Linked DNA regions of Homo sapiens: region 1 is linked to region 2. Evidence: fine-mapped expression QTL. A gene starts in region 2. The other region holds a variant in brackets. All regions are shown on one strand. Distances are between the middles of the regions.

Region 1 (8,336 bases), 43 kb after region 2:
GTTTCACATGGTAATCCAGTTGGTTTTACTGCTTCAGTGGCTTTTTATCCAGTATCTTCCTATATCTCAATCTGTCTTTTCCATTTCCACTATTTTCTTTTTAAAATATGTGTGTCTCCTTTAAATTCTTAATTAGTTCCTCAGTACATCACAGAATCTCATCCTGATTTTATCCTCTAGCTCTACTCTGCCATTTGTATACTTTGTTTTTAAGGTATATTCAATTAATCACTGTTGATTACTATATAAATTTCTTTTACTCTTCTTTTCACTTGTCTATATTGTTTATTCCATATTGTATTATTTTCTCTCTCCTCTTTATCTGGATAACTATTTCTAATCATACTCAGATATTATCTTCCCTCCACAGACTTCCCTAGGCAGTGTTAATTGCATCCTTCACCATGCTGCCATAGCACTCCATACATAGTAGTTTAAAAATTATGGTATAGTTAGCTGGGTGTGGTGGCAAGCACCTGTAATCCCAGCTGCTCGGGAGGCTGAGGCGGGAGAATGGCTTGAACTTGGGAGGCAGAGGTTGCAGTGAGCCGAGATGGCGCCACTATACTCCTGTGTGGACGACAGAGCAAGATTCCGTCTCAAAAAAATAAATATAAATAAATAAATAAAAATTATGGTATAGTTATAAAACTACAGTATTATAATTGTTTATTTACATGTGTGTTTTCACTGGACTTCATTTATCTCATGGGTTATTAATCTTTTTTTTTTCTGGAGACAGGGCCTCACTCTATAGTGCAGTGGTATGATCTTGGCTCACTTGCAACTTCTGCCTCCCAGGCTCAGGGGATTCTCCCACCTCAGCCTCTCGAGTAGCTGGGACCACAGACACACGCCACCATGCCTGGCTAAATTTTTTTTATATTTTTTGTAGAGATGGGGATTCACCATGTTGCCCAGGCTGGTCTCGAACTCCTGAGCTCAATCTGCCCACCTCAGCCTCCCAAAGTGCTAGGATTACAGGCATGAGCCATGGCACCTGGCAAGGGTTCTTCATCTTTATATTTCCTGCATCTAGAAAACACCTGATAACATAAACTCAGTATGTTTATGTGGAGGAGCAAATAATATACAGTTCTTACTTCTTATTTCCAACCAGCTTCACACTCTATTGCTGTTTAAACAAACAGGGATAATACAAAGGATTAGAAAAGTAGGTGATGTGACTGTCCTTTCAGTTTAAAAAATACATATTGCTACCTCACTCTGAGCTTTTTGAGGATAGGCTGTTTGTCTTAGTTCACATAACACCAGAAATTCAGCAAATGTTTGTTCAACTTAAATAAATTAATTTTACCTATATTTTCTTTCTCTATTATACACCCCTCTAACCAAACAAAATGTGGATGCTCAATAATCCCTTCTTAGAATACATATTTATTATATGTAAACATAAAATAAATATGTAGAATAAATATTATGTAAATATGTGGATATGTTTTAGAACTAGGATGTTGGGGTTATGTTCCAAAGAATTGCTACATTCTGGGGAGTGTCAAAAGCGAGGGATCAACCAACTCAACAAATAGTGGCCAGGAGCAGTGGCTCATGCCTGTAATCCCAGCACTTTGGGAGGCCAAGGCTGGTGTATCACTTGAGGTCAGGAGTTTGAGACCAGCCTGGCCAGCATGGGGGAAACTCTGTCTCTACTAACAATACAAAAATTAGCCGGGCATGGTGGTGCACGCCTGTAATCCCAGCTACTGGGGAGGCTGAGGCACGAGAATCGCGTGAACCTGGGAGGTAGAGGTTGCAGTGAGCACCACTGCACTCCAACCTGGGTGATAGAGTGAGACTTTGTCTCAAAAAAAAAAGTTATAAAAGATTATTATATACTGGTTACTATTCAAGATGTTTCTAATGGAAAAAGAGGAACAGTAAACATGTAAATAAGCAATTTTGGCCATAGCAAAGAATTTGGATTTTATTCTGTTTGCAATAAGAAGTCATTTTAGAGTTTTATTTAAATGGAATGATGAAATTTTCATTTTGTCTTAGACATATCACTCTGGTGTCTGCATGGATGGAGACAAGTTAAACTTCTATATTGGTCCACAGGTGGGAGTTTGGTAGCTCGGGTAGGACTATAGCAATGGAAATGATGAAAAGTAGTCATACTTAGGATATATTTTGGAAGTAGAGCTGACAACATGGACCAATTGAATGTGGGCTATAAAGAAAAGAGAGGAATCAAGGATGACTCCAAGGTATGGAGCCTGCATAACTTAGTGGTCTCTTGCTGAAATGGGAAATGCATCAGGGCAGAAAATCAGTGGTTCTCTTGGCCATAATGATGTTTGAAGCTTATTCTATATTAATGCAACAAATAATAATTGGGGGCCGGGTGAGGTGGCTCACGCCTGTAATTCCAATACTTTGAAAGGCTGAGGCAAGAAGATCACTTGAGCTCAGGAGTTTGTGACCAGCCTGGGCAACATAGCAAGACCTTGTCTCTACTACAAAAAAAAAAAATTGGCTGGGCATGGTGACTCACTCCTGCCTGGGTGATGGAGACTCTGCCTTTAAAATAATAATAATAATTGGGCACTTGGGATGTTATGAGACAGTGTATTGTGTGCTAAAGATAGAGAGATGCAAGAAAGGCAAAAGTCTTGTCCTCCGGGGGCTTACATTGTAGTAAGAAGACAGACATGAAATAAATAAATATAGCATAATATCTTGTAATGACAGGCAGTATGAAAAAAAAACACAAAGGAGAAAAAGAGTGATTGAGAAAGGGGAGATCTCTTAGATAGAATAGTGTAGGAAAGACTCTTAGAAGATACAACATTTGGCCAGGCGCAGTGGCTCACGCCTGTAATCCCAGCACTTTGGGAGGCCGAGGCAGGCGGATCACAAGGTCAGGAGATCGGGACTATCCTGGCTAACACGATGAAACCCCCCCCCCCACTAACACGGTGAAACCCCGTCTCTACTAAAAACAGAAAAAATTAGCCGGGCCTGGTGGTGGGCAACTGTAGTACCAGCTCCTCGGGAGGCTGAGGCTGGAGAATGGCGTGAACCTGGGAGGTGGAGCTTGCAGTGAGCTGAGATTGCGCCACTGCACTCCAGCCTGGGCAACAGAGCGAGACTCCGTCTCAAAAAAAAAAAAGAAGATACAACATTTGAGCAGGTAGTCAAAGAAGGTGCCCACGAGAAAAAAAGATAATTACCTCAGTGAAGTCTTAGAGGAAGGCAAATGGGCTTGAGACCTAGGCCACAGGTGGTGAGACTGGCTTTAGTCAGGAACAGGAACTCATTGTCCCTTATCTTTAAGAGGAATGTGGCTACAGGTGCAGGAAGGTTACTGGAATTGGTAGCGGAAAGATAAATTATTCTCCTCTGCTTTCATCTATTTTCGTGGTTAAGTGGGAAACAATATCATCTAGCTGTAGGAGGGGTGGTTGAAAGTGGAAGGGAAAAGGCTATTGGAGATGGGAAAATGAACTTAGTAAAGAAGCGTATTAATGAATTATTTATAATTTTGAAGGGATTATAGACAGCGTGATTGCACAATTTTTCTCCAACATTTAGCTGCTTGGTAGCAGGCACAAAATAAGTAAAGAATTGGATTGAGCTTTTACCAAATGAGATACAGAGGGAGTGGATCAAGGGAGTTAAAAATTATTTACAAGGGAGGGATTAATGGTAGATAGTGGATTCTAAGATGGGTAAGAAGGGATTTAAAAAGAATAGGGAGAGTTACGCATGGTGGTGCACACCTGTAGTCCCAGCTACTCTGGAGGCAGAGCTGGGAGGATCACTTGCATTTAGGATTTAAGGCAGTCTAGGCAACATAGTGAGATCCTGTCCCTGAAAAGGCAGCCTTTAGCTGCCCCAATACTAAGAATTCAGTGTATATCCCTACTTGTCACTTGCTTTACCTCACTTGGTTAAGATTTTATTTCTCCTGACTCTTTTTTGAGAGGTTCATAGTTAAAACTTTATTTTTTGCTTTCTAGAGCAACCTTGTGGATTATCTCAGTTTGTTGTTTTTTTTTTGTTTGTTTGTTTGTTTGTTTGTTTGTTTGTTTGTTTTTGGAGACAGAGTCTTGCTCTGTCGGCCAGGCTGGAGTACAGTGGCACAATCTCGGCTCACTGCAACCTCTGTCTCCCAGGCTCAAGCAATTCTCCTGCTTCAGCCTCCCAAGTAGCTGGGATTACAGGCATGTCCCACCACTTCTGGCTAATTTTTGTATTTTTAATAGAGACGGGGTTTCACCATGTTGGCCAGGCTGGTCTTGAACTCCTGACCTCAGGTAATCCACTCGCCTCAGCCTCCCAAGGTGCTGGGATTACAGGTGTGAGCCACCATGCCCGGCCAAGTTTTATTTTTTGAGGATGGAAAGCAAGGAGACACGATATTCTGTATAGGAACTCTGAGGAAAAGAATAATGAGAGTAGGTTTCAGAGAGAATGTGGAGGAAGGCATAGGGATCTTTGGGCCCCTCCAGACAACCAGATTGTCTTCCTGAAATATAGGTCTGCTCATGCCCTTCTTGAAAGAAGTAATTATTGGTTTTCCTCTTATCTATAAGATGATGTTGGCCAGGCACAGTGGCTTATGCCTATAATCCCAGCACTTTGGGAGGCCAAGGCAGGCGGATCACTTGAGGTCAGGAGTTTGAGAACAGCTTGGCCAACATGATGAAACCCCATCTCTACTAAAAATACAAAAATTAGCCAGGTGTGTTGGCAGGCGCGCGCCTATAATGTGCACCTGTACTCCAGAGGCTGAGGCAGGAGAATTGCTTGAACCCGGGAAGCAGAGGTTGCAGTGAGCTGAGATCACACTATTGCACTCCAGCCTGGGTGACGAGCAAAACTCCGCCTCAAAAAAAAAAAAAAAAAAAA[AT/T]CGTGTAAACTGGCCATCACCTGTTTTTTTAATATTCTGTTACTTCACTTTTAGCCAGTCTAATCTAGGAGCACTTGTCTTTTATTGAGCATCACCTTCCTCTGCCAATGTGTACATGTTAAAGAGAAGGAGAAGAGAAGGACTGAATAATGAAGTTGTTTATAGATACCAGAGGACTAAAAGGGAAACTATTGTGAAGGCATTGCTTACTACTAACACTTTATATTTAATTACCATATGTTTATATATAACATTAATAACATTACTTTAGGCATATATAATTATGACACCAAATATGTATAGTCTTCTTTCTGTTCGTGAACTTAATTTTTCACCGCTTTAAAAATGTTGTAGGGGCCAGGCATGGTGGCTCACACCCGTAATCCCAGCACTTTGGGAGGCCGAAGTGGGCAGATCACCTGAGGTCAGGATTTTGAGACCAGCCTGGCCAACATGGCAAAACCCCATCTCTACTAAAAATACAAAAGTTAACCAGGCGTGGTGGCAGGCACGTGCCTGTAATCCCAGCTACTTGGGAGGCTGAGGCAGAAGAATCACTTGAACCCAGGAGGCGGAGGTTGCAGTGAGCCGAGATCGCGCCATTGCACTGTAACCTGGGCGACAAGAGTGGAACTTAACCCCCCCACAAAAAAAAAAAAAAAAAACACATACACACACACACACACACACACACACACACACACACACACACACACACACATATAGGAGGGAATATTGTTAAGGATTATATTATAATGAAATTTTGGTGTATACATAGAAACACATTTTCTTTTTATTTATTTATTTATTTATTTATTTTTTATTGATCATTCTTGGGTGTTTCTCACAGAGGGGGATTTGGCAGGGTCATAGGACAATAGTGGAGGGAAGGTCAGCAGATAAACAAGTGAACAGAGGTCTCTGGTTTTCCTAGGCAGAGGACCCTGCGGCCTTCCGCAGCGTTTGTGTCCCTGGGTACTTGAGATTAGGGAGTGGTGATGACTCTTAACGAGCATGCTGCCTTCAAGCATCTGTTTAACAAAGCACATCTTGCACCGCCCTTAATCCATTTAACCCTGAGTGGACACAGCACATGTTTCAGAGAGCACAGGGTTGGGGGTAAGGTCACAGATCAACAGGATCCCAAGGCAGAAGAATTTTTCTTAGTACAGAACAAAATGAAAAGTCTCCCATGTCTACTTCTTTCCACACAGACACGGCAACCATCCGATTTCTCAATCTTTTCCCCACCTTTGCCCCCTTTCTATTCCACAAAACCGCAATTGTCATCATGGCCCGTTCTCAATGAGCTGTTGGGTACACCTCCCAGACGGGGTGGTGGCCGGGCAGAGGGGCTCCTCACTTCCCAGTAGGGGCGGCCGGGCAGAGGCGCCCCTCACATCCCCGACAGGGCGGCTGGCCGGGCGGGGGGCTGACACCCCCACCTCCCTCCTGGACGGGGTGGCTGGCCGGGCGGGGTGCTGACCCCCCAACCTCCCTCCCGGACGGAGCGGCTGGCTGGGCAGAGGGGCTTCTCACTTCCCAGTAGGGGTGGCTGGGCAGAGGCGCCCCTCACCTCCCGGACGGGGCGGCTGGCCGGGCGGGGGGCTGACCCCCCCACCTCCCTCCCGGACGGGGCGGCTGGCTGGGCGGGGGGCTGACCCCCCCACCTCCCTCCCGGACGGGGTGGCTGCCGGGCGGAGACGCTCCTCACTTCTCAGATGGGCCGGCTGCCGGGCGGAGGGGCTCCTCACTTCTCAGACGGGGCGGTTGCCGGGCGGAGGGTCTCCTCCCTTCTCAGACGGGGCGGCTGGGCAGAGACGCTCCTCACCTCCCAGACGGGGTCGCGGCCAGGCAGAGGCGCTCCTCACATCCCAGACGGGGCGGTGGGGCAAAGGCGCTCCCCACATCTCAGACAATGGGTGGCCGGGCAGAGACGCTCCTCACTTCCTAGATGGGATGGCGGCCGGGCAGACGCTTCTCACTTTCCAGACTGGGCAGCCAGGCAGAGGGGCTCCTCACGTCCCAGACGATAGGCGGCCGGGCAGAGGCGCCCCTCACATCCCCGACAGGGCGGCTGGCCGGGCGGGGGGCTGACCCCCCCACCTCCCTCCTGGACGGGGTGGCTGGCCGGGCGGGGTGCTGACCCCCCAACCTCCCTCCCGGACGGAGCGGCTGGCTGGGCAGAGGGTCTCCTCACTTCCCAGTAGGGGTGGCTGGGCAGAGGCGCCCCTCACCTCCCGGACGGGGCGGCTGGCCGGGCGGGGGGCTGACCCCCCCACCTCCCTCCCGGACGGGGCGGCTGGCCGGGCGGGGGGCTGATCCCCCCACCTCCCTCCCGGACGGGGTGGCTGCCGGGCGGAGACGCTCCTCACTTCTCAGATGGGCCGGCTGCCGGGCGGAGGGGCTCCTCACTTCTCAGACGGGGCGGTTGCCGGGCGGAGGGTCTCCTCCCTTCTCAGACGGGGCGGCTGGGCAGAGACGCTCCTCACCTCCCAGACGGGGTCGCGGCCAGGCAGAGGCGCTCCTCACATCCCAGACGGGGCGGTGGGGCAAAGGCGCTCCCCACATCTCAGACAATGGGTGGCCGGGCAGAGACGCTCCTCACTTCCTAGATGGGATGGCGGCCGGGCAGACGCTTCTCACTTTCCAGACTGGGCAGCCAGGCAGAGGGGCTCCTCACGTCCCAGACGATAGGCGGCCAGGCAGAGACGCTCCTCACTTCCCAGACGGGGTGGCGGCCGGGCATAGGCTGCAATCTCAGCACTTTGGGAGGCCAAGGCAGGTGGCTGGGAGGTGGAGGTTGTAGCGAGCTGAGATCACACCACTGCACTCCAGCCTGGGCACCACTGAGCACTGAGTGAACCAGACATCGTCTGCAATCCCGGCACCTCCGGAGGCCGAGGCTGGCGGATCACTCGCGGCTAGGAGCTGGAGACCAGCCCAGCCAACACAGTGAAACCCCGTCTTCACCAAAAAAATAAGAAAACCAGTCAGGCGTGGCGGCGCGCGCCTGCAATCGCAGGCACTCCGCAGGCTGAGGCAGGAGAATCAGGCAGGGAGGTTGCAGTGAGCCGAGATGGCAGCAGTACAGTCCAGCTTCGGCTCGGCATCAGAGGGAGACCGTGGAAAGAGAGGGAGAGGGAGACCGTGGGGAGAGGGAGACCGTGGGGAGAGGGAGGGGGGAGGGGGAGGGGGAGAGGGAGACATTTTCTTAAATGGAATCCAAAATCAAATTGCCAGTCCTTTTGTGTATTAGAGTATTATATCCAATGATCACCATAAATAAAACTCAAAACTTAGTATCAGAAAAATCTTTCATACAAATGTTTTTAACTTTAGGTATAAACTATTCTGAGAACTATAATACAGAATTTCTATTTTTGTGTAATGTTTGTTTAAGAATGAGTTTTTTAAATTATTTTTTTAAATTATATAATCCTTTTACAGTTTGGTAACA
Region 2 (8,336 bases):
CTCTTTCATTTTAAATTGGGGTATCCAAAGCCTGAAGAGGTGGCCTGGCCAATATTGACCAAGGTATAACTAAATATGAGCTAGCATCTTCTTCCTTCTTCTCGCTATCCCTTGGCTTTAAAAGATTTAGTACATGAAGAATAATGCATTAGCAAAAAGCTCCTAGTTTGTGTTTCCCCTTTGTGTCTCCCTGTTGGCTTTCTGAGACAACCTGAATTTTGCCAACAAAATATCGCAGAGGGATTTATATTAATTATTTTTTAGTTAGATGAATATTATATTCTTCCCATCCAAGTGAGTGATTTGCTAGGTTTGTTTAGGGAGGGAAAAAGCAAGAATAATGTGAGAAGAATCTAAATGCGAAGTTGATTTTGTGTGGAAAACTGTTTATTAGTTTCCATCAGGATTTTCTGTTTTTATTTTTGAGCTATGAGAGTGCATGCAGATTTGAAAAATTAGGCTTGCATAGTCAGAGGGGATCTTCAATTGTTATATTTGATACGTTTACATGTATCATTGTTATCATATGTAAATTATCATCATGTGAGTCAGATGTGAAGTATGATTTTTGTCTTTTGTTCAAATATTTAAAATGATAATACAGTTGAGTGGTAAGACTAATAGGTACCTTATGCCTAACATCACTCATTATATGGTCTAATGATGCTTCCTAGCATTGTGATTTTTACATGATCCAGCCAAAGAGTACCAATTCTATGCAATAGTGAGACTCTACCCTGTCAACCAAACAGCATTTTTTGGTATTTTCTGTCAACATCATTTCTTCACAGGGAAATTTCAAGTTGGAGTGCTTCGTTTGCTCACATTCATGTCTTGTTTTTGTTACTGGTTTGAAGACTAAAAGGCACGGGTTCAAATAAGATTGGTCTCTTTGGTTGGAGACTATTTCTGGGTTCATTCAGTTGTTCAAGAAACATTAGTTAAGCACCTACTGTTGCTAGACACTATGCTAGATACTGAGGATAATGAAGGTAAGATTGATATAGTCCCTGCCCTCATGGAGCTTATAGTCTCATGTGGTCTTAGTGAAACAAAGTCTCAATTTGCTTTTATACTAGAAATAATAAAGAAAGCTGCCTTGCTGTATTCGATCAGTTAAAATCAGCAACTTTGTGCTTTTGTATCAGTAAAACATTTAGTTCTCACCTTTTGAAAATGCAAACCACTGAAGTGATTTACAGTCTCCTCCATTTTTGGCTGGAGAGGTGTTCTGTTTCTGTGAGACATTTTTCTAATTTTTGTGGAACTTCACTTTCCTCCTTCTTTGCTTATACGTGTTTGTTAGATTATATTGCAAAGAAGTCAAGTTACTGATATCCAGTATTTTACAGAGGAAGATGACTTTCAAAACTAGTCATATTTCTGTAGAGGAGGAAGATTTTTAAAACCTTTATCATTCAGCATTTGTATTTTATGGATCCCCAGGAGAACTAAAAAGGAGATGACTCTCTACCATAGTTTGGTTTAAAAAAAAATTACTCTGTCAGTTATTTATTTATTATTTAATACTAAACTCCAAACTGAAGTGGCTCTGAGGTAAATCAGATATGATTTTAATTTAAGTTTCTTTATTAGCAGATCTATAAATGGAAGGTGACCAATGTCACTGCTTCTAAAATACTGTCCTAAACAACCCAGAAGATTTTATTTCAGCTCATGAATAGCTGTTCTAAATCTGTTGTATGTTAGACATACTATGAACTACCTCTTCACTTATTATGGGGAAGTTTCCTTAATAAAAGTGTGACGATTAAAGCTCTGGTGTCATTGGTTATTTTCTCACTCTCCCCTCCTTCTATTCTTTTTTAATTGCTTTACTTTGAATACAGGAAGGTCTTCTTTATGTATAGTCTTAAAAATACATATTAAGCATGCTGAGCTTGCCTTCAGAAAAAAATACGAATTAATCAGAAAGTTGTTACTAGATTCATTTACTTCCACGAGAACCTGTTGCTGGAGGAGCAGAGCAACTGCCTTTAAGAATTGGTTCAGAGGCGGCCGGGCGCGGTGGCTCACGCCTGTAATCCCAGCACTTTGGGAGGCCGAGGCGGGTGGATCACAAGGTCAGGAGATCGAGACCATCCTGGCTAACACGGTGAAACCCCGTCTCTACTAAAAATACAAAAAATTAGCCGGGCCTGGTGGCAGGGCATTAGTCCCAGCTACTCGGGAGGCTGAGGCAGGAGAATGGCGTGAACCCGAGAGGCGGAGCTTGCAGTGAGCCAAGATCGCACCACTGCACTCCAGTCTGGGCGACAGAGCGAGACTTTGTCTCAAAAAAAAAAAAAAAAAAAAAAAAAAAGGAATAGAATTGGTGCAGAGGCCGGGCGCGGCGGCTCATGCCTGTAATCCCAGCACTTTGGGAGGCCAAGGCGGGTGGATCACCTGAGGTCAGGAGTTCGAGACCGGCCTGGCCAACATGGTGAAACCCCGTCTCTACCAAAAATACAAAAAGTAGCTGGGTGTGGTGGCAGGCACCTGTAATCCCAGCTACTCGGGAGGCTGAGGCAGGAGAATTGCTTGAACCTGCTAGGCGGAGGTTGCGGTAGGCCGAGATCGTGCCACTGCACTCCAGCCTGGACCACAGAGTGAGACTCTGTCTCAAAAAAAAAAGAAAAAGAATTTCTTCAGTCATATCTTCATTCAGCACAAATACTTGATGCCTACCAAGTGCTAGACTTCGAGAATACAAAGATCAGTAAGCCACTGTCCTAAATAACTCTGCCTAGATGAGGCACAAATTAATACAGGCGTGTTAAGTGCAATAATGAAGGCAGGAAAAGGGATTACAGGTTTCAAACTGGGAACCAATTATCTTAGGGCAGTTCAGGATGGCTTCAGGATGATGAGATTTATAAACGGGTTCTTTAAAGATACGTTGGGGAAGGCCGGGCTCGGTGGCTCACGCCTGTAATCCCAGCACTTTGGGAGGCCAAGGCGGGCGGATCACGAGGTCAGGAGATCGAGACCATCCTGGCTAACACGGTGAAACCCCGTCTCTACTAAAAATACAAAAAAAAAAAAATTAGCCAGGCGAAGTGGCGGGCACCTGAAGTCCCAGCTTACTCGGGAGGCTGAGGCAGGAGAATGGCGTGAACCCAGGAGGCGGAGCTTGCAGTGAGCCGAGATCCTGCCGCTGCACTCCAGCCTGGGCGACAGAGAGAGACTCCGTCTCAAAAAAAAAAAAAAAAAGCCTGGGGAAAAGGCTAGGGCACGTCAGAGGAAACAGCTGGGCCAAAAGTTTTGGGATGGAGGAACGCATTTAAGTGTGAAGCTAGATCCAGAGGTTGGGGCCATCTCCTGATGGGGCATTATCTAGGCAATCTCGAATACGGATCTTTATGATAGTTTCTGCTCTGCCACCTTTCAAGTTGTAGGTGGCCCCAATAAGGAGAGGAATCGTCCCAGAATAATCCATAAAAGGTCTGGTTACTCTGACAGACGTGCCGTAACCGAACCTCAAACCCCGTCTCCAATTCGGATGTTCAGGAGGACTCACAAAAGGAAATGGCTCGGCTGGGCGCGGTGGCTCAACCCGGTAATCCCAGCATTTAGGGAGGCCGAGGCGGGCGGATCTCCTGAGGTCAGGAGTTCGATACCAGCCTAGCCAACATGGTGAAACCCCGTCTCTACTAAAAATACAAAAATGAGCCGGGCGTGGTGGCGGGCGCCTGTAATCTCAGCTACTTGGGAGGCTGCGGAGCGAGAGTCGCTTGAACCCGGGAGGCGAAGGTTGCAGTGAGCCGAAATCGCGCCATTGCACTCCAGCCTGGGCAACAAGAGCGAAACTCCGTCTTAAAAAAAAAAAGGGATGGTGGGGGAAAACGGCTCGAGTGCCGAAACTGGGACAAGAGAGATGGGGCTTGCCGGCATTCAGGAGCCTTTCTGTCATTCCAAGAGGGGGGAAGTGAGGAAGGAAGACCGTCTCAGAATGTCCTTCCGGGGCGCCTAGAGGGCCCCAGTAAAGAATAAAGCTGGTTGGCACCGGATGTGTTTTCTTCCAGGCTAAGTCCATCTTCCGGCTTGGGCAGACGCTGCCGCGGAATCCTTGACTCTAGTTTTCTGAGTCGGTGAGTGAGTGCAAAGTAGATTCCTCAGGTGGAGGGTGCCTGAGGAAGAGGAGGAGGAGGAGGAGGACAGCTGGGCTCGGCCCCGGAGTGGCTAATCTTGTGCTGCAACCACTGGGCCGACAGGGCCTTGGCCCTTCGCAGGGTTGCCTCCAGAATACCTGTGTGCTGAACCTGGCATCCGGTTTCAGTTCAGCAGATGTTCCCTGAGCTCCTCCTGCTCTGTGTGGGCCCCTGAGCTCGGTGCAGGAACACAGATGCATCAGGCACCATCTCGCGGTGCTCAGAGAGCAGCTGACTCTCTCTGGTTGAAACGGGAGGTGGAGTCATATTAGTTTTACTTGATTTGGGCTTAAAGGAGCCTAATCACTAGCTGAAAAAAGGAACTGGAAACGCGAATGTAAGAAATGTGTATTCGTGTCTTTTTGTCTGGGTAATGATGGAAAAATTTAGTATTGAACGAGGTTCGAGTATGAAAAAGAGAATAGAAGGTGATAAAGCCATAAAGATGGGTTAGAGCCAAATCGTGATGGGTCTCGTATTCTTTCCTAAGAAATCTGGACTGTCCCGGAGGTAGAGAAGAACGATAGAAGATTTAAAGCAGAAAAGGGAAATTAAAAATAAAATAAAATAAGGGTTGTTAATCCTGGTGGCACTCAGGCGGGTAATCTGGCATACAGAAGAGTGTGGTATAAAGAAGACCTGTTGGAAGACATTGCAGTTGTCCAGGTGAACCGGAAGGAGGACCTGTTGTAGTGGTGGGGAGTAGGAAGTTTGGAGATTACGTTAAAGTTGCTAATTGGATATATTATGTTAAATCAACTTTTTGGTGGTCACAGTGCTTATATTGGATATTCAAAATTGATAGATTGTTCTTGACCACAAGGCACACAACATTTAGCAAAAGAAACAAGCTAGAAACTGTTCACTACAATTCATTGTAATGAATGTTGTAACAAAGTTATGAAAAATGTGCTATGAGATCATAGAGAAGTGCATTATAAAGTTCTCGTTTTGAGATGGTGGCATAAAGGTTCATAACACCTACATTAGACTTTGAGTCTTCTTCTTCCTAATTCAGGTTTGGGGTTTTTCGTTTGTTTTCACCATTACAGCATGGGAAAGCATTCCCTATCCTTATTACATCAATGTTTGTGTTTTATTTTGCTTAGATTGTGATCATGGCTGCTGAGTCTGATGTTCTGCATTTCCAGTTTGAACAGCAAGGAGATGTGGTCTTGCAGAAAATGAATCTTTTGAGACAGCAGAATTTATTTTGTGATGTATCAATTTACATTAATGACACTGAGTTCCAGGGGCACAAGGTGATTTTGGCTGCTTGCTCCACTTTTATGAGAGATCAGTTTTTACTCACACAGTCAAAACATGTCAGAATCACCATCTTACAGAGTGCAGAAGTTGGCAGAAAATTGTTACTGTCTTGCTATACTGGAGCACTTGAAGTTAAAAGGAAAGAGCTTTTGAAATACTTGACTGCTGCCAGTTACCTTCAGATGGTTCACATTGTGGAAAAGTGCACAGAAGCTTTGTCAAAGTATCTGGAAATTGATCTTTCTATGAAAAACAACAACCAACACACTGACCTGTGTCAGTCTTCTGATCCTGATGTTAAGAATGAAGATGAAAATTCTGATAAAGACTGTGAGATAATTGAAATTTCAGAAGATAGTCCTGTAAACATAGATTTCCATGTTAAAGAAGAGGAAAGCAATGCTTTGCAGTCTACAGTAGAGAGTCTGACATCAGAGAGAAAGGAAATGAAGTCACCAGAGCTGTCTACAGTAGACATAGGTTTTAAAGACAATGAAATTTGTATCCTTCATGTAGAATCCATCAGTACAGCTGGTGTCGAAAATGGGCAGTTTTCACAGCCTTGTACCTCTTCAAAAGCAAGCATGTATTTCTCTGAAACACAGCATTCATTGATCAATTCTACAGTTGAGAGCAGAGTGGCTGAAGTTCCTGGGAATCAAGATCAGGGCTTATTTTGTGAGAATACTGAAGGAAGTTATGGTACAGTGAGTGAGATTCAGAATCTGGAGGAAGGTTATTCACTGAGGCACCAGTGCCCCAGGTGTCCTCGAGGCTTTCTTCATGTTGAAAACTATCTGCGCCACCTTAAAATGCATAAACTATTCTTATGCTTACAGTGCGGAAAAACATTTACACAGAAGAAAAATCTCAACCGACACATCCGAGGACACATGGGCATACGGCCCTTTCAGTGTACTGTGTGCTTGAAGACATTTACTGCCAAAAGCACACTTCAGGACCACTTGAACATACACAGTGGGGATCGGCCATACAAATGCCACTGTTGTGATATGGATTTCAAGCACAAGTCTGCTCTCAAAAAGCACTTAACCTCTGTCCATGGCAGAAGCAGTGGTGAAAAACTATCTAGGCCTGATCTCAAAAGGCAAAGTCTACTATAATTATAATCACAGACTTGTTATATAAAGTTTGTATTATTCTATTACGCAAGTCTTTCTGTAGAGATGCAGCATTTGTAATATTTCATCCCCCCAATCTTTGTTTCTTATATTTTGTCGGCTTACACATAATCATTCTTTCTGAACTTCTAACAGTTCCAAAGTTATGGGAGGCACAGTAAAGCTGATGGGATTCTGTCTCATCTCATACCTTACATATAAGTCTCAGTAGTATCCCTAGAGAAATAGTGTTCCTCTCTTATATATTCTTGATTCTAGTGACAAAGGATCCAGCAGTATTTGCAGATTCCGATTTGGAGTCTCTAGGTAATTGATTTAAGTATAAAATCCAATCATATAAAAACTTTAATGAATTAGGATAACAAGAAGAGAAAATAAAGGTAAAAACACTATTACCTGTTTCTAGTCACTTTAGAACAGATGGCACTAAAAAAATTTTTTTTTAACTTTTTACCAGCTGTTCTTGGATTCCAAACTAAACACCAAGATACTTTTCATTTTAAAATGTATAAAGTAACAATTCAGATTCACTTGGGAATAGCAGAATTTTTTTATACAGGGTTAATAATCCTTAAAATACTTTTATTTCCATGCCTTATTAGTATACATACTTAAGAAATGGTTCATTGGGCCCGAGTTTCTTGATTTTATTTAATACAATCGGATTTAATAATTTTGTGGCCAGTAAAATTATACCATTGGCATGAAGCTGTGAAAAATGAGAAATTCTACCTTTACCAGGGATATCTGTTCTACTGTTTTAAAAGTTCCTCTCTATTTTATTTTTTATTTAACATGAAGTAAAATTGAAATTTCTTCTTGGTGTATAGTTCTGTGAATTTTAACAGAAAGATTTGTGCACCACTACTGCAGTCGGTACAGAACAGTTCCTTCACTCCCAATAGCTCTCTTATGCTGTCCCTTTGTAGTCAGCTCCTTCTAGCTCTAATCCTGGCAACAGTTCTCCGTCACTATTATTTTGCCTTTTCTGGACTGTCATATAAACAGAATCTTATAGTACGTTCCCTCTTGAAATGCTTTTTCACCCAGCATAATGACTTTGAGGTTCATCCATGTCATTTTAAATTTTGAATTGGCAATATATATTCTAGCTGTTACTAGATGAGCAATTTAAAAAGGTGTAGCTATTAGTGTTGTATTTTTTCATTTACATTAATGTAATTTCCATTCACTATGTGTTGATAAAAATCTTAACCATCCCTAGAGTTTTATATTTCCAAAAATATGCCAAAAGGAAAACTATGACTGTATGATTATTTTAGCGAGAGTCATATTTGAGATGGTGTTCTGAGCCATAGTTCTCTAACATCTCCGTCTACATATAACACAAAACTTTTATAAATTATTTTAACAAAGATTAAAATATACTGCAGGGCAAATAATATTCTCTAAAACACAGGAACTGCTTTTCGTAAAGAAGACTGACTAGATGCATCTTTCTTTGAAGCTGTTCTAGTCCTCCTCTAGTTAACTTAGCTTTATGTAGAATTTCTACTGTATTTAATTTCTATTGAAGCCCTTCTGTATTTTAAAATGTAATATACTTTGTACCATTTATAAAAATTGTGTGATGAATGAATCACATGTTCGTTGTTATAAGTGTTAACCTTTTTTTGACAATTTTGTGGGAAAGACATTCTCCACTGAATTTTAACTTTCCTTGAGACTTTCAAGAATGCAGGTCTCGTTTGATGAAAAAACCGACTTCATAACCCAATGTTACTAGTTAGCGACATTGTGCTGAATTTCTCCT

Direction of the effects. Positions count from the first base shown, and alleles are read on the strand shown. Sizes are in standard deviations (SD) of each study's normalised expression.
With allele T in place of AT in region 1, the expression in activated CD8 T cells of the gene that starts at base 4,019 in region 2 is higher (moderate effect, 0.75 SD a copy in Schmiedel 2018).

Evidence for each region. PIP is the estimated chance that this variant, and not a neighbour inherited with it, causes the effect.
Region 1: its variant is fine-mapped to the expression of ZBTB6 in activated CD8 T cells (Schmiedel 2018, PIP 0.95).

What each region holds. Positions count from the first base shown.
Region 1 is chr9:122,866,101-122,874,436 of GRCh38, reverse strand. All of the region lies in intron 9 of RC3H2 (ring finger and CCCH-type domains 2), which reads left to right. Among named protein-coding and RNA genes, the nearest start is that of SNORD90, 10 kb to the left of the region's middle. The variant AT/T (reference allele first, on the strand shown) is at 4,876.
Region 2 is chr9:122,909,006-122,917,341 of GRCh38, reverse strand. ZBTB6 (zinc finger and BTB domain containing 6) reads left to right here and starts at 4,019. Exons shown (of 2, transcript NM_006626.6): 1 at 4,019-4,091; 2 at 5,261-8,336. The coding sequence starts at 5,270. The coding sequence ends at 6,544. ZBTB26 (zinc finger and BTB domain containing 26) reads left to right here. Exons shown (of 2, transcript NM_020924.4): 2 at 1-1,776. RefSeq lists enhancers at 1,729-2,486, 3,955-4,184, 4,195-4,304.